Linked DNA regions of Homo sapiens. The protein of the gene in region 1 interacts with the protein of each later gene in a pairwise test. Each region holds a gene or a part of one and is shown in the gene's direction. Other genes may lie near its edges.

Region 1 (7,320 bases):
TAGGACAGTAACACCCAAGGTGTGGAGTAATCCCAGGATTGAGAAATGTTTCCAGTACAAATGTAGGTCAATTTTAACTTGCCTCTGGCAAATGGCAACCACAGTTGTAGCTCAAAGTGTCCAGTGCAATTCTATCACATCTTGGTCACTCGCTAGCTTGGCAGAATCAACTATTCGCTGCATTTTGAGTAGGGGTTGTGAGTTGTGTTTTTCATTTGTGTTTTGTGTGGGTATCAAGGGTAGCATGGGGGTTAGTATAGGTCCTTGCCACCCAGAGGTGATTTATAGACCATTAGTACCTGTATCAACTCCGAGGATATGAATATGTTACAAATTCAGAATCTTGAGAATCGCCTCAACCCTACCATATTAGAATCTGTATTTAAATAAAATCTCCATATACACCTTAAAGTTGGAGAAGCTTTAAGTTCCTTAGAACTGTTAATTTTAAAGAGAGAGATGATAGCTATGTAGTGGGCAGAGTAGGATCAGTCCCTAATTTCTACTTGAAATATCCTTGTCTCAGATTCTCCATTAATTTAGAGATACCATTTCATCCCTTATGAGTAAAGGCTACAACATCTTTTGTACCCTGAACTCACTTGATCAGCAGCCTTAATTATTTCAACTATGGCCCAGACCTAGGAACTAAAAAAAAAAAAAAAAAAACAAAAAAAAAAACAGGCTGGGCACGGTGGCTCATGCCTGTAATCCCAGCACTTTGGAAGGCCGAGGTGGGAGGATCACCTGAGGTCAGGAGTTCAAGACCAGCCTGACCAACATGAAGAAACCCCATTTCTACTAAAAATACAAAATTAGACAGGCGTGGTGGCGCATACCTGTAATCCCAGCTACTCGGGAGGCAGAAGCAGGAGAATCGCTTGAACCCAGGAGGTGGAGGTCGCAGTGAGCCAAGATCACACCATTGCATTCCAGCCTGGGCAACAAGAGGGAAACTCTGTCTCAAAAAACAAACAAACAAACAAAACACTCCAGGCATGGATGCCTTAATAGCTACATATATATCACAGATTCTGTGTTTTACACATTAGCAAGATCTCAGACCCTTATGATTCCAATAAACTTAGGGCTATGGATCCCTGACCACGAAGGATTGGAAGCAGCAAAGTAGGGCAAAGGGAAAGAAGTAAAATATGGAGTTGGGGTGAAGTTTACAATGAGAATTGATGGTAGAAAGAATAGCTTTGACATTTTCGTAGTTATTTAGATTTATAAATCTGTGCACACGTCAAAAACAGTCACTCAGATCTTAGAGAAATTGTACTTAACCCTGCCTACGTGTTAGCATCACCTACTTTTCTCAAGCCTCAATCTCGGAGATTCTGATGTAATTGGTTTGGAGTGGGATCCAGGCGCAGGTGTTTCATTAAAGCTTCCCAGGTGATTCTTAGTGGTTTAGGCTCAGTCATCATAGGGCCCAAAGGCCTAAACACCTAAGTAGCCTCTAAATAGGCTCTTTCCAGCTTGCTATAATCATTGACAATCAAGGACCCCAGGGTTGGTGAGGATGACCTTGGTTACTAGGATTTTCTTTTAAGAGGAAAACACTCTATATATTAGAGGTGATTTTGGCAGAAAATAAGATAGCCTGGAAGTAAATGATACACAAACACCGATATAAGTCCTGTGTCATAGTTGGAGAAATCTGGAGGGCACTGGTGTGTTGAATCAGACACCCCCTATCTCTCCCTCTTGACCCTCCCTCCATATAGCCCAACATTTACCATGCCCGTGAATCACCTGGGGGTCTTGTTCCAATACAGATTCTGACTCAGTAGTCTTGGGGGAGGCTCCAGATTCTGTCATTCTTACGAGCTCCAGGTGATGCTACTGTAGCTGGTCCAGGGACAACACTTTGAGTCAAGGTCATCCTGATGGCCTTGACTACTCCTCAACCCCTTCTTTGGAACCCAAACAAGAAGAATGGCTCCCATGAATTCCACTGGGGTCCTTGATCTACAGCCACTGTACCAAAAACTGTAGGCATTCCTGAACTAACATCATATATTTTGTCCATCTCTTTTCTTAACTATTCCCTCCTCCCACTAGGCAATGTTATAGGAGGATTGGGGCCTACTGAGTTAGAAACAAGCTTAGAGAGCAGGTATTTTGCCCCATTCATTACAAAACTATGGCACTGAGGCCAAGTTGCAAAGGATTTGTCAAGTTCACAGGTGATCGTGGTAAAGGCAAAACTAGATCTAAATCAGGACATGAACGCATCCATTAAGGATTCTGTCAAAATGATTGCTTCCTGTAGCTTTCTGTGTGAAACATCCATTTGCTTATCCTCAGGGAAATCAGACTAACAAAGACTTGGAAAGGAACATAAAATTCTAAAGCTAGGCTTATGGCCTTTATAACCCTTAGATGGGGCAGATAACATGCCACGGAGGCTCAGAGACAGCTCTGAGACTATGCAATAGCTACTGTTTCCCCTCTTGTGGAATGTTCACTTAAAAAAGCTCAAGGGCTCTATAAGTTGCCCAATGAACTCCACAGACATCCTTAATTCATTTTCATTTATTGGAACCCTCTCTCAAATAATTTTCTAAATCTCACGCAATAATGATGTATATTCTTGCTCAATATTAAGAAGCCCTCATGCAAAACTGAAGAAATAAATTGTTCTTACAAAAGAAGGAAAAAGGAATTATATTCTCAGAACATTCTGCTTACCCAGACACACAGATCTGATTCTTGCTCCATTGTTTGTGGCATTCTGGATCCTAGGGCCATTGATGAGGCTGGGTCAGTGGCCACACTGGCTCCTGGGTACCCCTTCCCTGGCCACAAAAGTCCATCCCAGCAGCACTATTTAAACTGGACTTATTTCTCACTTCACAGCTCTGGCCTGGGCTGAGACCTCCCCAACAGAGCTTATTAGCGAGCTTGTCATCTTGCTCTGTGGCTATCTAGGTCTGGAGTCAAGAGCCATTCACAGGAAAATCAGCATGAAACCTTTAAGTTTGCATATTAAATATTAACACCACTAAGGGCTACAGTGGAAAAGAGGTTTGCTGAGCTCAAGGGCCCTCACTCCACCCCCAACTTCCCTTGGCTTTTCTCTTCTATGTTGTGTTCCTGGTAAATCCCATTATGTCTCGACTACCTTAGGCCCTCTCAGCCCCTTCTTGGGAATTAGGCTCTCTGGATAGGCAAAGAGGCAGATACCCAGCTGCCAGGTGAATCAGATGTCCTCATCAGATCTCTTAATTTCCACTTTGGTGATATTTCAAAGGATCACAAATTATGTTCTTAGTGCCTGGTCAGAGAACTGGGAAAGAGCTGGAAGATGAGACACCAAACTCCATCCCATGGTGATGTTTGAACCAGGCTGGAGCTGGTTTCACATGTTTTTCATTGTGCATGACTTTCTTAATTGCCTTAGTGGGAATGCGTTACTGCAAAATAAAGTGAAATTGTTTTCCTTATTGCTTGTAATTTACAGAGGGGTGGTTTTGATCATATAAACCAGGCACTTTTCAAATCCATTGATCTTAGGGTGGAAGGAGGGATTTCTTTTTAAGTATTCATTTCGAACTATGCTTTCACTAGTAAACTCAAAGCCCAAGGGCAAAAACCCATGATTCTCCATTTTGTAATAGCTATTAGATGTCCACAGCACATCAGACCTGTGGAAAACGCATGCTTTGTGTATGGAAGAGGGAGAGGGAGCGTCAGGAGTTGTCCTTTGCCAAAAAACGTACTCTGACACTCAAAGGCACAGGCTGGTGGAGATCCAGGGAACCCGGGAAAGCCCAGGCCTAACTCAGGCCCGCGCGGGTCTCTTCTGATCCCATAAGATGAGGAGTGGGTCCTGGCTCTGGGCATCCTGGTGTCGACTGTGAGTTCCCAGCAGAGGCCCAGAGTCCCGGTCCGGCAGCCGAGGGAAGCGGGGGGGTCTTCCAGAAGAAGAAAGGGCCAAGGTCACCCCGGTGCCTCTCCAGCAGCAGCAGAGGGCGGCGGTCGGTGTCGCTGCTGGCCGGGGCCTCGAGGAAGGCGCGGGCCAGCTGGGGCCGGGTCTGCGTTCCCAGGAGCTGCCACCGTTCCAGGGAGCAAGTCAGGCCGGGACGTAGCGCCTGCGCGGGACCCTCACTTGCCACCAAGACCCCCACAAACCCCGCCCCATCCTGCCTTACGCCCCGCCCCAAGGTCGTTCTCCCGACCCGGGGTCCCGCCCCAAGGCCGTCCTCCCGCCCCGCCGCTTGGTGGCGGCCGCATGCTGCCCGGATATAAAGGGTCGGCCCCACATCCCAGGGACCAGCGAGCGGCCTTGAGAGGCTCTGGCTCTTGCTTCTTAGGCGGCCCGAGGACGCCATGGCCGAGTGCCCGACACTCGGGGAGGCAGTCACCGACCACCCGGACCGCCTGTGGGCCTGGGAGAAGTTCGTGTATTTGGACGAGAAGCAGCACGCCTGGCTGCCCTTAACCATCGAGGTACAGCCAGCTTTGGAGCGGATGGCGAGGCAGCAGGGGCAGCCCCTGGGAGCTTGGGATGCCCTAGGAAGGGCGAGGACTCAAGGAGCACTCACTATGGGGCAGGGAGGATCCCCACAGATGAAGCCACTTTGAGCCGGGCTCTGGAGGATGAATAGGAGTTCTCCAGGCAGGGAAGAAGGGTGGGAAAACCGCAAAGGAATGTCGGTCAAAGGGGTGGACCCAGTGCCTGTGGAGTGTGACTATAATGTTGACTACAGCAGGCATTTTCTGGGCTTCGGGGTCCTAATCCTTAAAAATGGGTATCTCTAAGTGACTCATCCATATGGCCGATTATCGGAATCATCTCAGGTGGGTCCCAGAAATCTGTATTTTTAAAAAGAACCCTCAACAGTTTAGGGTCAACCAGGCATAGCAAACACTGGCCTAGAGTGTGAAGTATTTTCCACTACCTCTGGGCTTTATTTAGAAAACAAATTTAACAAGTGATGTCGTAGTATAAGCGCCGGTATTGAATCAATATTGACTTTTTTAATGTGTGATGCCTTAAGATGGGTCCTTAATCCATGTTAAGTTTTTGTTAAAGAAATAGATAAGTCTTTTACAAGTATTTGGATTTACTCAATGAAAAAGAGTCAAAAAATGTTCAAACTCTCTCCAAACATACACTGAAGAAAGCATAAAAATTAAAAAATATATTAGAACACGTATGTCCAGTAGCAATCAAAAATTATTGAGTGTTGACTGTGTCTCTACAGATGGGAAACTGAGGCACAAAAATGTACATTTGTCCGAGGTAAGATTGCTAGTAGGTAATGGGGTTGGAATTCTAGGCTCTTAACCACCACAAAATCTGCATTTTTATTGGCATTTCAATTTTTTAAATATGTTTTTACTTTAAAAATCAAGTTAAATACTTACTTTTTTAAAATCAAAATTTGAAGAAATAATTTGAAGATTCAGTGGATTTCTTTTTTTAAATCTCTGAGAAATCTCTTCTTCAACGTGACACCAAAACCACGAACCAGACAGTTTTTCATAAAATCATGATACATGCTCCACAAAAAATAACCCACTAGCAAACTGTGGGACAGATTTTGCCTCACATCATTGAAAAGGCCAGTATTCTTTTTCTCTCTTTCTTTCTTTGTTGTTTTTTTTTTTTCCTGTAGATACAGGGTCTCGCTCTGTGACCCAGGCTGGTCTTAAACTCCTGGCCTCAAGCGATCCTCCTGCCTCTGCCTTCCAAAGCACTGGAATTACAAGTGTGAGCCGCTGCAACCCGCCAGAAAAAAGTGTGCCTTTCATGGCCCTGTCTGGGTGGCTAGACACGTGTGTGTGCTGGTGGTCCTGGCCCAGCCAGAGTCCCTGAGAGGAGCATGCATGGCCTAAGGAAGTGAGCTTCAGGGAACAGTGATGACCATCATTTCACACTCGGACCCCTGCCCAGATGGGTGGATGGCTGGCAGGAGGGATTCCGGTTTTCTGCGCCTGGAGAAGCCCTGGCAAGCGGAACCTGAAAGTATGCCCTGTCCTTTTCTTCTCCTCAGATAAAGGATAGGTTACAGTTACGGGTGCTCTTGCGTCGGGAAGACGTCGTCCTGGGGAGGCCTATGACCCCCACCCAGATAGGCCCAAGCCTGCTGCCTATCATGTGGCAGCTCTACCCTGATGGACGATACCGATCCTCAGACTCCAGTTTCTGGCGCTTAGTGTACCACATCAAGGTGAGTGTCTTTCTCCCAGAGGTCCATCGGGTGATCTTGGGTTTGCCCTCCTCCATGTCTGGCCTTAGTGGTTTATCTTCCCTCCATCCCAGTCCCAAAAGCATTAAAAAATGGGGGAAATGTACAAGTGCAGATTTCTAAAGGACTTTACCAGAGAGAAGATAGATCCTCTGAGGTCTCTAACAGAACCCTACCTCCACTTCCTCCCAGCCACCAGCTAGCCGCAGGAAGACATCTCTGGTGGGCAGTCACAGGCTGAAGGCTGGTGGGAGGAGGGGCAGTCTCCAAGAGCCCCTGAAATCCTCACACCTGGGTTCCTACCTGCTGTTTCCAGCTAGGGGAAGGCGCAGGAGTGAGGAATGGAGGGAGTGGAGGGCTCTGGCCGATCAATGCCTTCTCTCTCTCTCTGCCTCTCAGATTGACGGCGTGGAGGACATGCTTCTCGAGCTGCTGCCAGATGACTGATGTATGGTGAGCTCCACTGGAGCCTGACCCCTCTTAGTCCACAGTGGCTGTATCAGAAAGAAAGACCACCCCTTCTCCATGAAGGCAGTGCTAACCCCTCCCCGACTGCTGCCATCTGAGGGTCCCTAGGGATGGGAGAGGCTTCCTGGAGGCACTCATGTCTCCCTTACCACTTCGGGAGCCAAGGGCTTTGTAGGCAGCCCCCTTTATCGCAGCTGCTCATATCTATAAAGTACTTCACAAGTTTCAGCTGGCACTTTCATTTACCATTGCTTTTTTTTTTTTTTGAGATGAGTCTGGCTCTGTGGCCCAGGCTAGAGTGTAGTGGTGCAATCTCAGCTCACTGCAAGCTCTGCCTCCCGGGTTCACACCATTCTCCTGCCTCAGCCCTCGGAGTAGCTGGGACTACAGGCGCCCGCCACCACACCTGGCTAATTTTTTTTTTTTTTTTTTTTTTTTAGTAGAGACGGGGTTTCACCGTGTTAGCCAGGATGGTCTCGATCTCCTGACCTCATGATCTGCCCGCCTCGGCCTCCCAAAGTGCTGGGATTACAGGCATGAGCCACCACGTCCGGCCTTACCATTGCTTTATTAAATAAGCACTGGTGCTTGATTATATCAGCTGAGCCAGATATTAGATACGCTATTGAGTTTTGAGGAAATAAGA
Region 2 (3,613 bases), on another chromosome or scaffold:
TATTGGTGAACAGCAAATGTTGCTGTCTGATTGTTCCTCTGAAAGTTTTGTCTCAGAGGAGTACCCAGCCGTGTGATGTGTCAGTCTGCCCCTACTGGGGGGTGCCTCCCAGTTAGGCTACTCAGGGGTCAGGGACCCACTTGAGGAGGCAGTCTGTCCATTCTCAGATCTCAAGCTGCGTGCTGGGAGAACCATTACTCTCTTCAAGCTGTCAGACAGGGACATTTAAGTCTGCAGAGGTTTCTGCTGCCTTTTGTTTGGTTATGCCTGCCCCCAGAGGTGGAGTCTACAGAGGCAGGCAGGCCTCCTTGAGCTGCGGTGGGCTCCACCCAGTTCGAGCTTCCTGGCCACTTTGTTTACCTACTCAATCCTCAGCAATGGTGGGCGCCCCTCCACCAGCCTCACTGCCACCTCGCAGTTTGATCTCAGACTGCTGTGCTAGCAATGAGCAAGGCTCCGTGGGCGTAGGACCTTATGAGCCAGGCATGGGATACAATCTTCTGGTGTGCCGTTTGCTAAGACTGTTGGAAAATGCAGTATTAGGGTGGGAGTGACCTGATTTTCCAGGTGCCATCTGTCACCCCTTTCCTTGGCTAGGAAAGGGAATTCCCTGACCCCTTGCACTTCCCGGATGATGTGATGCCTCGCCCTGCTTCGGCTCATGCTCAGTGCACTGCACCCACTGTACTGCACCCACTGTCTGACAATCCCCAGTGAGATGAACACGATACCTCAGTTGGAAATGCAGAAATCATACGTCTTCTGCATCGCTCACGCTGGGAGCTGTAGACTGGAGCTGTTCCTATTCGGCTGTCTTGGCTCCACCCCTGAGCATTTTGCATTCTAAGGACCTTTGCACAGGCTTCTATTCATTCTTTAGTGGAAGTTTGTGTGTTTGTTTCAAGAAGCTACTTTTTAGAGCAGTTTTAGGTTTACAGAAAAATTGAGCAGAAAGTACAGAGAGTTCCCATATACTACCCCACCCCACCCTACCCCACCACTAGTTTCCTTTATTATTAGTATCTTGCATTGGGATGGCACATTAGTTGCAATTGATGAGCCAATGTGGATGCATTCTTATTAACTAAAGTCCATAGTTTACATGAGGGTTCTCTCTTTGTGTTGTACATTCTGTGGGTTTTGCCTAATATGTCATGTCATGTATCCACCATTATAGTGTCATACAGAATAGTTTCACTGCTCTAAAAGTGCCCTCTATCCCACCTATTCATCCCTCCCTTCCCCTCCAAATCCCTAGAAACCACTAATCTTTTTTCTCTCTCTATAGTTTTGCCTTTTCCAGAGTGTCATATAATTGGAATCGGTAGTAGGTATTTAATAAAGACTTGCTTAGTGAATGAATAACTGATTGCCATTAGAACCATTCATATGAGCTCTGGTGAGGCTGAAGAGAAGGATATAGATGGGTGAGACAGAGAGGAGGCAGGACTGACAGGGTGTGAGTGGCCATGAGTGATGCAAAAGTAGCTCAGGTTGCTCCCTTTCATCATAGTCCAGGTGCCCTGGAGAAGAGACCAAATAAATAGACATTGGCATGATGTCCTGCAACAGCTTCTTCTTATGCAGGTCATGCAGGAAGAATTGCATGCACAAGCCCTTATCCTAGAGTCACTGAACACAAACCTCTACTATACCCAGTTGGAACTCCAGAAAGAGGTGAGTCCCTACTGGAGTGGGGATGGGGGTTGGGGGAAGAACCCAGGTCTCCATCCAGCTCTGCCATATAGCTCTGCCCTGGATGGCTCTGGGTTGGGGAAGATGGCTATTAAAATGTATGTCTTTCAGAAAGCTATAGTGGGAAATCTGGAGAAAATGCTTCAAACCAAGTTTGCTGAAACTGAAGAAAAGTATAAGCACACCATACAGATCCTGACGGAAGAGAACATTCATCTGAAGTGCGGCTGCTGCTGAAAAAGACATAGCTGAGTTCTCTTTAGGAGTGGGAAGGAGTTTGAGTGAGGAATGGGTTAGGAAGATAGACCAACTGCTCCCTAGTTATGTCAAGGCACAGGTGTTTTCGGGAGGGAGGTATGTCACTCTAGGCCAGTGACACAAAGCCAGATAGTTCACTTGAGGTGGAGTGGAGATGTGTCTATACTTCTCCCATTCACCTGTGTCCTTGTTTCTATGCAAAACAACACAGGACATTTGTCTTCCAGTTTCTGAGTTTGCTCAGTTCTATGACTGAGGGTGGTTTTTAAATCCATCTCCCCTGGGAGTCTGATGGTCTTGCCATTACATGCAGCTGCTTCTGGTTCCTATGGAAATCACCTTTGGATCAGAAGGTGTACTGTTACCTGAAGCTGCATCTTAAATCATTAAAATAAATTTTGGTCAATACTTTAATAGAAGAAAGTTATTTATTGCATTGATTTAGTAGAAAATTCCTCGTATAGGACTTTAGTCACCTGAACACCATACCTCACTAAATTCAAAACCACTGCAAGTAATGAGTGAGAGACTGCTGTGGTGAAGGAACGAAGGCACATTTCTCTCCCTGCACTCCAAATATCCTATACCCTTTCTAGCTTTTGAGTTGACATTGATACATCTTTCCTTTCTTTTTACAGGCAAAAGATAATTTCTAAGAATGAAGAAATTTGTGAAGGATGTTCTGGGAGATTGGCCTCTATTACTGTTTCTAAGGATGATTCTGACACTGTGCAAGATGGTAGCAAGAAAGGACAAGAATCATAAACAAAAAGTTGCTCTGCATTGTTGAAGATGGTTGGCACACCATTTCTGTAGGCCCAGGAAACTCCTGGGAGGGTTTTCTTGAGAAAATGCATATAATGAGTTTAGTTCTTGGGTTGCTCTGACTCTCTGAATGTCTGAAAATGTTTGAATTCGCATCTGAATTTCACAGCTTATCACGGACTCTTCACTGAAAAATGATGCTCTCCATACTGGGAGCTGAGCTTTCTCTGAGTTTTGTACTATTTTTCTTCTACCTTGACGTATTTCGTTAGAAAGAAACTGATTTGAAGGCCTTCTTCATATTGAACTTTTACTATATTTGGGAGGTGTACCTTTGTCCCCTGGGGCATTTAGGTAGCAAAAAAAGATGATGTGTTGATTTTACTCTAAAATATTTTTCTCTCACACCCATGCCCCCTACTTCCCTACCTCTCAATCATGTTCCCTAACCTATGACTTAGGAAGGGTTTCTGATGATTCTTACCACCTCCTCTGGACCATCACCAGAATTCAGACACCCACAGTGCAGGCAACATAAATAAGTGAAGTGGGCTAGACATAAGGAAAACAATTGCCCAAGCACAGTGATAAGTGGCAACCAACAGCAGCCTCAGTAGAGGGGCTTGGGCAGGGCTGGGGCACAGCGGATGGGGAAGAGTGACCCACAGAGCACTGTCCCATCTGAAGAAGGTGCTTCTCAGACCTTTGCCATGCAAAAGCATGAGGTCAATATTGTCAGATAGTATGATTTTTTAAAAGAAGTTATTCTGGTTTTTATGTGATATCTCCTAATTTTTAAACATTGACAACAAATTTTAAAAATACAACTGTGTGTGCCGATCATGGGAGACTCAAGTAGAACATGTCTGTAGTCCAGATGTTTTCCACCTGTGAG
Region 3 (6,427 bases), on another chromosome or scaffold:
CTTGCTTAGAAACCTACAATGATGCTTTACTGTTTACAGAGACAAGTTCAAAACTCTGCAGTTTGAGATTTAGGCGCTTGACGGCCTGGCCCTAACCTACCTTTTGCATTTCAGTTTCAAGCTGCCTTTCAAGTTAACTTTTATCTCCAGCCAAACTGATCTACCTTCCTGTAAGCTGTTTTATACTTTTCCTCTAAACCTTTTCTCATGTAATTCTTCCTGATCGTAATAGCCCTCTTCTCTTTCAGTATTTCAAGAAAAGATTATTCTTTATTACATACAAATGTATGTGTTCGCCTGTGTATACATACATACATACTCTTATTTATGCTGTTTATTGTTTTTCAAGGTCTAACTTGTGTCCCATTTTTTTATGAAGTCTTCCTAGACCACTTTGGTCTAGAGCAGTGTTATTCAAACTTTTTTTTTTTTAATTTATTTTTTTGAGACAGGGTCTCACTCTGTCTCAAAAAAATTTATTATTTTTTTTTGAGATGGAGTCTCGCTCTGTCGCCCAGGTTGGAGTGCAGTGGCGCAATCTCAGCTCACTGCAACCTCCGCCTCCCAGGTTGAAGCGATTCTCCTGCCTCAGCATCGTGAGTAGCTGGGATTACAGGCACGTGCCACTCCGTTCGGCTAACTTTTGTATTTTTAGTAGAGATGGGGTTTCACCATGTTGGCCAGGCTGGTCTCGATCTCCTGACCTTGTGAGCCACCTGCCTCGGTCTCCCAAAGTGCTGGATTACAGGCATGAGCCACCGCGCCCAGCCTGTATAATTAATTAACAAAATAATTATTAATTATAATAATTTATAAAATAAAATTATTTATTTTATTTCTGGGAGACAAGGATTCAAGTTGCCCTGAATATATGCCCCCAAGAGCTTATTTTCTGTTCACAGTTCCTATTGGCAGTAATCTTGTGTTGCTTTAGTACATTTCCTATACTGTTGTCCTAAAATACATTTTGTTACTGAATTTCTTGTCTCTTTAACTACACTCTTAGCTGGGTATAGGAGCATTTCTAGATACTTCCAGTAGTGAAAACACTGGATTGAGAAAAGTGGTTTCTGTAGCATGGCTCATCTATTGCACTATAGGTGATGCTGTTGCACACAGTTCTCTCAAATGACAAAAAATGGACTTTCTCATTTCTTACAAAATTTTGTTTAGGCCTTGGGCCTTAAAAGGACACAACTGTTTATTGGTTAACTGTTAATTTGGATTTTTTCATCGCTGAATAGTATTGATAAACTACATTAAATCTTTAGTATATGGTTCAATGGACATAATCAGCTGTGTTGCCATTTGGGTATATTGATTTTCTGTATTTAAACTTTCATTCCTACCACTACAGGCAGTGCAGTGGCATCTGTAGCTGTAGATCCCAGTGGTCGTCTCTTAGCCACAGGTCAAGAAGATTCTAGCTGCATGTTGTATGACATAAGAGGAGGAAGAATGGTACAAAGTTATCATCCTCATTCCAGTGATGTTCGCTCTGTTCGATTCTCCCCTGGAGCTCACTACTTGCTAACAGGCTCTTATGATATGAAAATAAAGGTGACAGACCTACAAGGTGATTGAGATCGACTTCTCTGTTTTTAGTCTTTCCTGTTCTATTTGGGACCTTTATTTTTTTGTTAATGTGATGTGGTTGATTATATAATACTTTCAATTATTTTATAGTATTTATTGAGCAGATTCTGAGACTATATTAAGATATATAATAGCAAATTATTAAATAAGCAGTGAATAGTCTTATTGTTAGGTTTTGTTTTTGTTTTTATAGAGGCAGGGGCTCACTATGTTGCCCAGGCTGGTCTCGAACTCCTGGGCTCAAGTGATCCATCCGCCTTCGTCTCCCAAAGTGCTGGGATTACAGGCGTGAGCCACCACGCCCAGCCTGTTTTTGTTTTTGAGACAGGGTCTCGCTCTGTCGCCCAGGCTGGAGTGCAGTGGTGTGATCTTAGCTCACTGTATCCTCTTATCTCCCCTGCTCAAGTGATCCTCCCACCTCAGCCCTGCAAGTAGCTAGGACTACAGGTGCATGCCACCTCACCTGGCTAATATTTGTATCTTCTGTAGAGACAAAATTTTGCCATGTTGCGCAGGCTGGTCTCAAACTTCTGAGCTCAAGCGATCTGCCTGCATTGGCCTCCCAGAGTGCTGGGATTATAGGCGTGAGCCATCATGCCCAACCTTATTGTTAGTTTTTGATTTTTTTTTTTTGAGGCAGGGTCTCACTCTTTCACCCAGGCTGGAGTGCAGTGGCACGATTATTGCTCACTACACCCTTGACCTCCTGGGTTCAAGCCATCCTTCTGCCTCAGCCTCCGAATAGCTGGAACTACATCTGTGCACCACCATGGATGGCACATTTTAAAAATTTTTTTGTAAAGATGGGATCTTGCCATGTTGCCCAGGCTGGTTTTGAATTCCAGGCCTCAAGTGATCCTCCTGCCTCCGCTTAAGATATTTTTTAAAATCAACATTTATTTATAGTGACTCATTCTGAGATAAATGATGGATTTGTGTACTGTTATTAGCTTCTACATTAAAAAATCATTAGCATACAATCTTTGTAATTAGGTCTTAGTATCTAGTTTTAGTTTTAAACATTCATCAAGCAAATATTTATTGTATATCAATTAGGGACTGACAGATGAGAATAAGACAGTTAATTCCCTCCCTGATGGAGCTTATATTTTAGAGGTCAATAAAAAGTAAACCAATAAACAATGTAATTTTAGGTATTTGTGCTGTTTAAAAAATTAGTATGGTAGGGAGATAGTGACTAGGGTGAATAGGGGAAGGCTATTTATTTATTTATTTTGAGACAGAGTCTTGTTCTGTTGCCCAGGCTGGAGTGCAGTGGTGCATCTTGGCTCACTGCAGGGGGAAGGCTATTTTAAATAGGATAATTGGAGTAGGTCTCTCCAAGGAAATGCCATTTGCATAGAGACCAGAATGATGAGGAGGAACAAGCCAGGCCAGGATATTAGGAGAAGAGCACAGCAAGTATAAAGATGCTGAAGTAGGAACCAGCTTAGCACGTTCATGACACTACAGGAAGCCAATGTGCCTGGAACTTAGTGAACTAAGAGAGAGAGACACAGAAGAATAAATCAGAGGCAGGGTTTTATAGACTTTTTTTTTTTTTTTTTCTGAGACAGAGTCTCGCTCTGTCGCCCAGGCTGGAGCGCAGTGGTGCAATGTCGGCTCACTGCAAGCTCCACCTCCCAGTTCATGCCATTCTCCTGCCTCAGCCTCCCAAGTAGCTGGAACTACAGGCGCCCGCCACCACACCTGGCTAATTTTTTGTATTTTTAGTAGAGACAGAGTTTCACCATGTTAGCCTTGATCTTGATGGTCTTGATCTCCTGACCTCGTGATCTGCCTGCCTTGGCCTCCCAAAGTGCTGGGATTACAGGCGTGAGCCACCGCGCCCGGCCTATAGACATTTTTTTTAAGGGCTTTATTTTTAATAGCAGTTATAGGTTAACAGCAAAATTGAGAGATACGGAGATTTCCCATATACTCCTGACTCACACATGCATAGCCTGCCTCCCCCATTATCAGTATCCCCTTCCACAGTGGTACATTTATTATAGTTGGTGGGCTATAAGCATTTTAAAAAGTATAATGTGAAGCCTTTGGAAGATTTTAACTGGAAGGGATAGGAGCTGAATTATATTTTTGGAGAATTTGGGGTTCTGTAGGGAGAGTAGATTGTAAGGGGGCAAGAGTAGAAATATAAATGTCAGTGAGGAGGCTGTTGGAATAGTTCAGGTGAGATGATGGTGGCTTGGACTAGGGTGGTGGAGGTGGAGGTAGTAAGAAATGACTAAATTTGAGATATATTTTGTTTGGATCAGCTTTGAGGAGTGAGGGGAAAAGGAATCAATGACGATTCCTAGGTTTTTGTCATGAGCAACCAGATGGTGCCATTGAGATAAGGGAGGCAGGTAAGGGGAGGAACAGGTTTAGGCAAGAAAACCAAGAGTTTGGTTTTAGACAAGTTTAAATTAGGATGACTATCAGACAAGTGAGATATTGAATGACTATTTGGATACTAGTCTGGAGCTCAGATGAGAACCAAGATTGGAGATAAAATATGTATGAATTGTAAATATATAAATGGCCATGTTGCTAGATGAAATTTTTTAGGAAGTTAGGTACAGAGAGAACAGAAGAAATCTGAGGGTTGACTCCTGGGATTCACCAAGCTTTACGTCAAGAAGAAAAGGGAAACTAGCAAAAGATGAAGTGGCACTGAAATCAGGGAGAAATCAAGTTGAGAGAATTTCCGAGAGAGAGAGAGAGGCAACTTGTCAAATGTTGCTGTATGGGTATATGTTAGCAAATACTAATAGCATAATTAGGTAGGTAGTAATTTATCCCTGTATAAACCTTTCAATGTATTATATTAATGTAGTTTAAGATTTTTTATACTGTAATGTCTTAAAGTAACAGGAAGTCTATACAATCTATACATATACTTATTTTGCATTGTAAATCAACATCTCTTTTGTAATTTAGGGGACCTCACCAAGCAGCTTCCTATCATGGTGGTGGGGGAGCACAAGGACAAAGTGATTCAGTGCAGATGGCACACCCAGGATCTTTCCTTCCTGTCATCCTCTGCAGATAGAACTGTCACCCTCTGGACTTACAATGGGTAGAGCACACCGCATGTCAGTCTATGCAGCAAAAGCACAGAGACTTAAGACTACTGAGTTGTGAAAATTACAAATCTGAAGAACATAGTGTCCAGGAAAGTGGTTTAGCACGAAGAGGCCCCTTATTACCATGTATCCCACTGATAGGAGGTGTTGGGTGGTGTTATTCCGCAGTGCTTTCAGTCTTCCATGTGAGCTCGTGCTGCTGTGACCTGCTATATGTAGTCTCGTTGCCAAAGTCTGCAGAAGAGCTCTTCAGTTGTTGGTGTGCACTCCAAGTCAGGATGGACAATGTGTTTACGGTTTAGTATTCAATGCATTCCTTGGTCTTTGCCTAAATAACAGTTTTATATGCACATTGAAATGGAATTATACTTCAACTATATTATTAAATGTAATGCAACCAAGTTCCTCCCAGATTAAACTTCCCAGGTGTTCAGAATTACTTTTGCTCTTCTCACGATCCCATATTGTATTATCACTTGTCTTCTAGAGGTCAGAATTCCATAATATATGTCACTCAAAAGTTACATGGTTGCTTTCACTTAAGGATCATTGTGGAGTTTAAAGATGAATGAAAAACTGCTTCTTAGTTTACTACATGGTATAGGCCCTTTTTTCTTAAACCCAGGGATATGATTATTTTGTCATATAATTTTGTTTCAGGCTAAAAGGTAAATGTGTTTGCTTCAGAAACTTGTTAACTTCAGTTTTTTGAATGCAACAGGATACCTCCCTTCCAAACTGAACTGTAGAAGCAGAGCAGCAGCAGTTATGTGATGCAACACTTGATGGTACAGTAAATTTACTGGCATTTTTCTCCTTAAAAATTAAAATCCTTGACATAGACCATAGCATGGCTTGAAATGCTATGTCTGCATGATAATTTAAAATGGAAGATTTAAACTTTGCACTCCAAAAGCTTATTTGGATTTTTTTCTTGCACTGTTTTGTGTAATGCAGAATAATGATTTTATTTCTACAGCTTTGTAGATTCTAACATTTATGTATCTTTATTTTCATATTGTACAGTAATTTTACTTTAAATTATTTAAATAGGCTATTTTATTTATTTCAAATGCAGTTGTATTAGTTCTCATTATTGAACTGTCTGTGCACTGTATGTAGCAAGCATTTTTCATCTGTTGTATACAAGTGGAAAGGGTATTAGAAGTGTAACTGTGCTATTATTTCAATAAAGACCTCTTGACATTTAAAACTGTTTCTGTTCCTCAGTCTTTGGCTTTCAAAATAATGTTATTTTTTCAGTTTACTGGGAGAAAGTGAGGTCCAGTGGATGAAGTCCATAATCAGTTTCTTAGATTTCTTTCTAAAGTTCTTCTACTAATTTGCTTTTTAATCCTTGGCAACTGTATAACTTATTAACAAAAAAATAATTTTTCTAAAAATGGGGTCTTGCTTTGTCCAGGTTGGTCTTGAACTCTTGGCCTCAAGTGATTCTCCTGAGTCAACCTCCTGAAGTGTTGGGATTATGGGCGTGAGCCATTGTGCCTGGCCTGTATAACTTTTGTGTGTCTTCTGTCTCTTTTATCCAAGATTTAGAGAACTTTCTATCCTTAATATGTTGTGAAAGTTGACTAATAAAAGCCTAACAATATGTATAAATTTGAACTCAAGAGTATGAATATGTCGAATTAGGTAATCACCCAACAGGTTCACCATGCCCTCTGCCTAGATAGAGCCAATTTATTCAAGACAAGGGAATTGCAATAGAGAAAGAGTTATTC
Region 4 (7,038 bases), on another chromosome or scaffold:
ATACTAATATTGCACCACCAACTAATTCCAGAGGACCTGTTAAAATGAATCTGGAAAACCTAGATCACCTCTAGTCCTTTGAATTAGATGGATGGGGAAGGACCGTCTAAGTAAATTGTGAAATTCTAACTATAAGCAAAAAAATGTGTATGTATCCTGTGAGTCAGATTGGCATCACATTCTAAAATATGGGTTTTGTTTATTTCAGAATGTTCTCATTGTTGAGGTAAGCTGGCATTTCCTTTTCCATACTTGGAGGTTGAAAGAATCTAATGGTGAGTTTTAAACGGTAAACCTTGTTATCAAATTGACCAAGGATTTCTTGAGCTCCCACTGGGTGCATGCTCTCCAAATTTAATGAATAGGGGCCAGATAGCGTCCCTGATTTCAAATAATGTAGAATAAAAGCTTTGCAACAGTATTTGTGGGCGACTTTATCCTTTTTGTGTATCCAGTTCCACATATCTCTGTGTTGATTCTTATACTTCTTTGTGAATCAGACAACTTTAAAGAAGAGGAAACTAGCTCACTGAACCAAATTCATTTCACAGTAAAACCAAGGTTAGAACTCTGTTTACCCTGAATTCAGTGTCTTTGCTAAGGACCTCTGATGATTTCAAGAATTCTCAAATACTTTCAGCATCAAAATCATAAACACAATCAATTAAAAATGACGAGCTATGGGGAAAGCTATGTTTTTTTGTTTTTCGTTTTTCGTTTTTTTTAACTTTTGTTTTTCTGTTAAAAAAAAGAGAGAAAAGAGAACGTGGGATCCCTATGGCAGTAGTGGACTAATACAGCAAATGGCCACGTTTCCTTCAGGAGCACGCTTGTCTCATCAAACAGCAAAAAATTCAGGGGAGCTGTTTTCAACCTTTTGTTACACAATTGCCTGTGTGCGCCATGTGCATCTGGAGTTCTTGCTCAGTATAACCCATGGAGTAGACCCTCTAACCAAATGAATTGCCCAACCCTGGCTACATTCAGACCTGTTGTTTTGATAATCAGCTCATGACAGCTGATTCCTGTCCTTAGGACAATAAATCGCCGCTGCCCATTCTCCTCTAATTGTGCAGCAGCTCATCAGCAGAGATGAGCCCGAGCTCACTGCAGCCGTGGACCCTCAGAATTCACAGGCTGTCACCAGCTGCTGTCCAGACACCTCTCACTTCCCAGCCATAGAATCCCCCATTGAGTGGGGGAGGACAAGGGGGAGGTTTTTATCCATTCAGTGTATTCAGATGTACATATCCATGAAAATTCATGTGCCTTGTATTGTGTTACATAAACTCAGGGCCAAATTTAGTCCTTGAATGTGCAGACACAAGTCCAAGTGTACTCAACGAGGAGTCCTACATGCTGTCCAAAGACTAAATTTGGCCCTTCAACACAGCTAAAGGATTCAAGGAGGAAAGAGTCTCCAGTAGATTCCCCAAAACTCAGCTTCCAGAAAGAAGCGCCTGTCTAAATAAAACATAACCAACTCTTCCTCCTACTGTGGCTCCAAATTGGATGGCATTTTTAATTACGATGCATTATTAATCAGGAGTATCTCCCTGGGTGAAAAGTCTATTGTGCTGCTCAAATGCATTTTGTTGAATTTATCTGTCCTTTTTGCAAAGGATGTTGTCGGAACTGGGAGGACCATGAAAGCACTACTCAGCAATATAGAGAAATACAAGCCCAACATGATTAAGGTAGCCAGGTGAGTTGGACATTCATAGCATGGTGATTTCTAGTTTTCCAAGCAAGCCCAAAAGGGATGCTAACACAGGATGCTCTTTCCAAAGAGTGTAATATATTCCAAACTAGTGACCTTTTCCCCTGGGGTATTACAGCTTGACCACACTGAAAAACAGCCCTTGACTGCTAGCCTGAGAGAAGTAAGGGAAGAAGACGTGCTTTGCCGTGTTTCTGAGTTCCTCTTTACTGTGCCTCCATTAGCTGTTTCCAGGAGCAGCTGGATGAGCCCCCGTGCAATTGCTCCGCTCCCTTCATTTTTTTTGTTCTTTGTTTGTTTGTTTTGAGACAGAGTCTTGCTCTGTTGCCCAGGCTGGGCTGGAGTGCAGTAGCACAATCTCGGCTCACTGCAACCTCCACCCCCTGGGTTCAAACAATTCTGATGCCTCAGCTTCCCGAGTAGCTGGGACTACAGGCGCCTGCCACTGCACCCAGCTAATTTTTTGTATTTTTAGCAGAGATGGGGTTTCACCATGTTGGCCAGGCTGGTCTGGAACTCCTGACCTCAAGTGATCTGCCTGCCTCAGCCTCCCAAAGTGCTAGGATTACAGGCACGAGCCACTGCACCCGGCCCTTTTTTTTTTTCTTTTTTATTCTTTAATATGAGACAGGGTCTTGCTCTGTCGCCCAGCCCAAGCTGGAGGGCAGTAGTGTGATCATAACTCACTGCAGCCTCAAACTTCTGGGCTCAAGTGATCCTCCCACCTCAGCCTCCTGAGTAGCTAGGACAGCTACCTTTTTTTTTTTTTTTTTTTTTTTTTTTTGAGACGGAGTCTTGCTCTGTCACCCAGGCTGGAGTGCAGTGGTACAATCTCAGCTCACTGCAACTTCACCCTCCCGGGTTCGAGCAATTCTCTTGCTTCAGACTCCCATGTAGCTGAGACTGCAGACACGTACCACCATGCCCAGCCAATTTTTGTATTTTTAGTAAAGATGGGTTTTCACCATGTTGGCCAGGCTGGTCTCAAACTTATGAGCTCAAGTGATTTGGCCTCCCAAAGTGCTGGAATTACAAGCATGAGCTACTGTGCCTGGCTGACAGCTACCTTTTTAAAAAGTTTTTTTATATTTTATCTGCTTTTTGAGACAGGGTCTCTTTCTGTCACCTAGGCTGGAGTGCAATAGTGCAATCAAGGCTCACTGCAGCCTTCAACTCCTGGGCTACAACAATCCTCCCACCTCAGCCTCCCAAGTAGCTGGGACTACAGGCAGGTGCCACCACACCCAGCTAAATTTTTTAATTTTTTGTAGAGACAGGGGTCTCGCTATGTTGCCCAGACTGGTCTTGAACTCTGGGCTCAAGTGATCCTCCCACCTTGTCCTCCCAAAGCACTGGGATTACAGATGTAAGCACTGTGCCTGACCTGCTGTCTTCTTTTTATCCAGAACCATCTATATAGTGCCACAGTAGCAAAATATGTATTTCAAGTACATCTTTTAATGATGCTTGATTCTATTTACAATTCATAGAGATTTGATTGGGTTCACTAAAGCATGTCTTTTTTAATGGTAGTTTGTTGGTGAAGAGAACATCCAGAAGTGACGGCTTTAGACCTGACTGTAAGTGTTTTTCAGTTTTTTGTTTGTTTGTTTGTTTGTTTTGTGCTTATGGTGTTTCATTTTATGTTTAAGAATCTTTGGTTTCCTATTTGACAGCATTGCATGTGGATTTGAAACTGTGTAGGGCTGATAGTCCCACGGATTCCTCATGATCTCCCCCACCTTGATAGGGAAAACAGAACCCTTCAAAATGAGGGTCTTCAATGTTCTAATTTGCATCTTTCACAGGAACTCTGTTCCGTGCATTGGGTATTTTTATTTGTATGTTTCACACAGCACCTTAACTACAGAGAAGTCAGCTGAAAAGTTTCAGGGAGTAGAGGAAGACCTGATCCCGCTGGACTGACTCAGACACATAGGATCCCCGCCTTGGCCTCTATTCTCACCAGTCAGACAAGGAGAGGTGCTATGGAGGTTTAGAGGGATTCTTATGCCATCATCCGGAACTATTACCAGACAACGCACAATGGTGACCTTTAGCAAGCCTGAATTGTAACGCACAGAAGGGGAAATCTAAGACAGCTCCCCTTCACCTCCAAACCAAAGCTCCGTAACACAGAGAATTAGCAGAGCAGGTATCTCTAGATACCATCTTCACACTTGACTTCAGATGTGTGTTCTCTAGGGCTTCCTCATCTAGGACACTCTCCTCCCTTCTCCCCATAATAAGCCTAGTTCTAACACCAAGAAGGATAAACACGCAGCCTAATTATTTATTATTCTAACACTAGAGGCGATTTTTTTTCACTTGCATAGGCAGACTTCAGCTTGATTTTTATAACTTACATTTGCTCCAAAGCTCCTGGGATAATTTGGCTACAGTTCTCTTCAGCAAGCTGAACAAACATTAGCGAAAGAGAAGTGCAGTATGGATGGGTGACATGCCAGCGACATTTAGCCAGTGACTCTACATTCTGAAAACAAGTTTCATGCCTGTGCTGGATGTGTTAACTCTGGACCATGTCAGTTCTGGGCAGAGAGACCCAATCGCATGTTCTCATCTATTACTATTATCAAAGGTATAATCTGGATGTAGTCAAGGTTGCATGCGGTTACTAAGCAGAAATTGTCTAAGGAAATAGTACAGGATACTCAGTGTATAAATAAGATTTTAACTGAAGTTGAAAAACATTCACTTCAATGACAAATTTCTTATATCACTTATAATAACAGCAATAAAATAATAGCAGCTAACACTAGGAAGAGGTCGTGATGTGCCATGCACTATTCTAAGAGCTATACAGAGATTAGCTCATTTCATCCACACAATAGCTCTCTAAAGGTAGGAGCTGTTGTTGTACCTATTTTACAGATGAGGAAATTGAGCACAGCAAGCTTAAATAGCTTGCCAAAGTCATGTAGCCATGAGTGTCAGGCCAATATTAAGCCCAGGCAATCTGGTTTCAGTCACTGCCCTGACTCTTCCACTACATCTGCAAGTAACATCTGCTATTGCAAATGTAAGTGTAGGAGCTGCCTGCATTTACCAGCTAAGGATAGGTCACTCTGATTCATGATTGTCCTGCTGATCCATCATCCTTTTATTCTATGACATCTCAAGTTTTGGCCTTCTAAATAGGCTTTGGGCTCTCATTTTCCCAGTGTGAGTTGCCCTGCCTAATGGAAGGATTGCATTGCTCCCTATAAAGTCATTATTATAACCCTGGTTACAAACAGGGTTTCTTGGGATTTGCTCATATTATTATTATTATTATTTGAGACGGAATCTGACTCTGTCGCCCAGTGCAGTGGCGTGATCTTGGCTCACTGCAACTTCTGCCTCCCAGGTTCAAGTGATTCTCCTGCCTCAGCCTCCCAAGTAGCTGGGACTACAGGTACCACCACACCTGGCTAATTTTTGTATTTTTAGTAGAGATGGGGTTTCACCATGTTGGCCAGGCTGGTCTTGGACTCCTGACCTCAGGTGATCCACCCACCTAAGCCTCTCAAAGTGCTGGGATTACAGGCGTGAGCCACTGCACCTTACCTTTTTTTTTTCTTTTTGAGATGGGATCTCACTTTGTTGCCTAGGCTGGTCTCAAACTCCTGGCCTCGAATGATCTTCCTGCCTCAGCCTCTTGAATAGCTGGGACTGCAGGTGCGCACCCGGCTTCATATTCTTTTAGCTAGCTCAGAATCTCTGTTCCTTCTTTCTCTCTGGATTTATGAGGCTTTGTACTTTGCGTTCCTTTCTCCTGATTGATTCTTTCTTTTCTCCTCAATGTAACTTCTGACCTCTTCTGCTCTTGCTTCTCCTCTCTTACTCTTTTTTTCAAGAAACTCTGCAGTTTGGAGGAATCAAGCAGGCTTCCTAGCAAGGGACTCCATAATGCAACCCCCTAGAAAATAAGTCCCTCACCTCTAGTACTTATTTTCCTAGCAAGGGACTCCATAATGTAACCCCCTAGAAAATAAGTACCTCCAGTACTTTCTATGAGCATGAACCAGTCGTTTTCTTCTTGTGAAAGCATCGTTGGTCATAGTCACTGTGGAGATGACTTTGCCCAGGCTATAAGCCCACTGGCTGTACCCAAGTACACTTCCATTAAAAGTAAGCAAATAAATCTCTCATCTATAATACTGTAATAAACAAACCTGTAAGATTCCAAAACACTGAAACAAGTTTGAAAATCACTGGACCAGTGCACCTTTATTCTGTTTCAAGACTTCTGAAGAAGGAGAGCTATTGTCTGTTCCTTAAGAATTCTCTCCAATAAGTATTAGCCAGGCGTAGTTTTGCATGCCTGTAGTCCCAGCTACTCAGGAGGCTGAGGTGAGAGGATCTCCTGAGCCTGTGGAGGTAGAGGCTGCCGTGAGCCATGATCACACGCCTGGACAACAGAGTGAGATCCTTTCTCAAAAAATAGCCAGGTTCAGTGGCCCATGCCTGTAATCCCAGCACTTTGGGAGACTGAGGCGGATGGATCACTTGAGGTCAAGAGTTCGAGACTGGCCTGGCCAACATGGTGAAACCCCATCTCTACTAAAACTACAAAAATTAGCCTGGCATGGTGGCACACGTCTGTCTTCCCAGCTACTCGGGAAACTGAGGCAGGAGAATGGCTTGAACCCTGGTGGTGGAGGCTGCAGTAAGCCAAGATCGCGAGACTCGGTCTCAGAAAAAAAAAAAGAATCCTTTCTGACAAAAAATCATCATCTTTTCAATGAATCTTCTTTTGCTTTTCATAAGTACCTTGCACTGTGCTTAAATCCATTTCCTCTCATTCTGCCCTCAGTAGGGAGCTCATTAATATCCTCTGCATCATGAACCCAAAGACCAGCATTAATGCAACCTCCACATTCTCTTCCTCAAGTTGAACAATCCCGTTGCCTTTCATCTTGTGTCCTGGCTTTTGCTTTCCAGCCCTTTAAACAGCCAAGACACTGAGTACAGCGGGAGAATTGCTTTCTAGTTGCTGTGGCCCGCGCACCTGTTCACATAATGCAGCGTCGTAACGCCTTCTGCTTGAACTTTCCTTTGTGTTGTTGAGAGTGTTTCCTTTGGCATCGTATCACTGCATACTGCTTGCTTTAGAACACCAGGGCCACGTGACTCAATTATGCATATTTCTTGTTATGCACCAGGCTTCCTGAGCCCTTTCTCAACTCTGTATGCTAGATCAGTCATTCTTCATTGTAGGTTGGCTTGTTTGCCTTGCCTCCTTCCTCCCGAGTAGTCCTTCGGGTCCAGGTCCCTCTTGGGCTCATCGTGTGCATTTCTCACCATTTCTCACTCCC

The links.
Region 2: the proteins of TCL1A (region 1) and FLACC1 interact in binary tests that used the Homo sapiens proteins (3 or more experiments, as listed by UniProt).
Region 3: the proteins of TCL1A (region 1) and WDR47 interact in binary tests that used the Homo sapiens proteins (3 or more experiments, as listed by UniProt).
Region 4: the proteins of TCL1A (region 1) and PRTFDC1 interact in binary tests that used the Homo sapiens proteins (3 or more experiments, as listed by UniProt).

Annotation. Positions count from the first base shown.
Region 1 is NC_000014.9:95,711,088-95,718,407, reverse strand, and holds the start of TCL1A (T-cell leukemia/lymphoma protein 1A), read left to right. Parts: upstream 1-4,282; 5' UTR 4,283-4,341; coding exon 4,342-4,461; intron 4,462-5,633; exon of another isoform or gene 5,634-5,857; intron 5,858-6,011; coding exon 6,012-6,188; intron 6,189-6,605; coding exon 6,606-6,653; 3' UTR 6,654-6,659; intron 6,660-7,320. UniProt on the Homo sapiens protein: Enhances the phosphorylation and activation of AKT1, AKT2 and AKT3. Promotes nuclear translocation of AKT1. Enhances cell proliferation, stabilizes mitochondrial membrane potential and promotes cell survival.
Region 2 is NC_000002.12:201,287,760-201,291,372, reverse strand, and holds the end of FLACC1 (flagellum-associated coiled-coil domain-containing protein 1), read left to right. Parts: intron 1-1,513; coding exon of another isoform or gene 1,514-1,587; coding exon 1,588-1,677; intron 1,678-1,806; coding exon 1,807-1,916; coding exon of another isoform or gene 1,917-1,932; exon of another isoform or gene 1,933-1,976; intron 1,977-2,591; coding exon 2,592-2,718; 3' UTR 2,719-3,102; downstream 3,103-3,613.
Region 3 is NC_000001.11:108,969,685-108,976,111, reverse strand, and holds the end of WDR47 (WD repeat-containing protein 47), read left to right. Parts: intron 1-1,357; coding exon 1,358-1,576; intron 1,577-4,539; coding exon 4,540-4,682; 3' UTR 4,683-5,898; downstream 5,899-6,427.
Region 4 is NC_000010.11:24,851,580-24,858,617, reverse strand, and holds part of PRTFDC1 (phosphoribosyltransferase domain-containing protein 1), read left to right. Parts: intron 1-208; coding exon 209-226; intron 227-1,622; coding exon 1,623-1,705; intron 1,706-3,253; coding exon 3,254-3,300; intron 3,301-7,038. UniProt on the Homo sapiens protein: Has low, barely detectable phosphoribosyltransferase activity (in vitro). Binds GMP, IMP and alpha-D-5-phosphoribosyl 1-pyrophosphate (PRPP). Is not expected to contribute to purine metabolism or GMP salvage.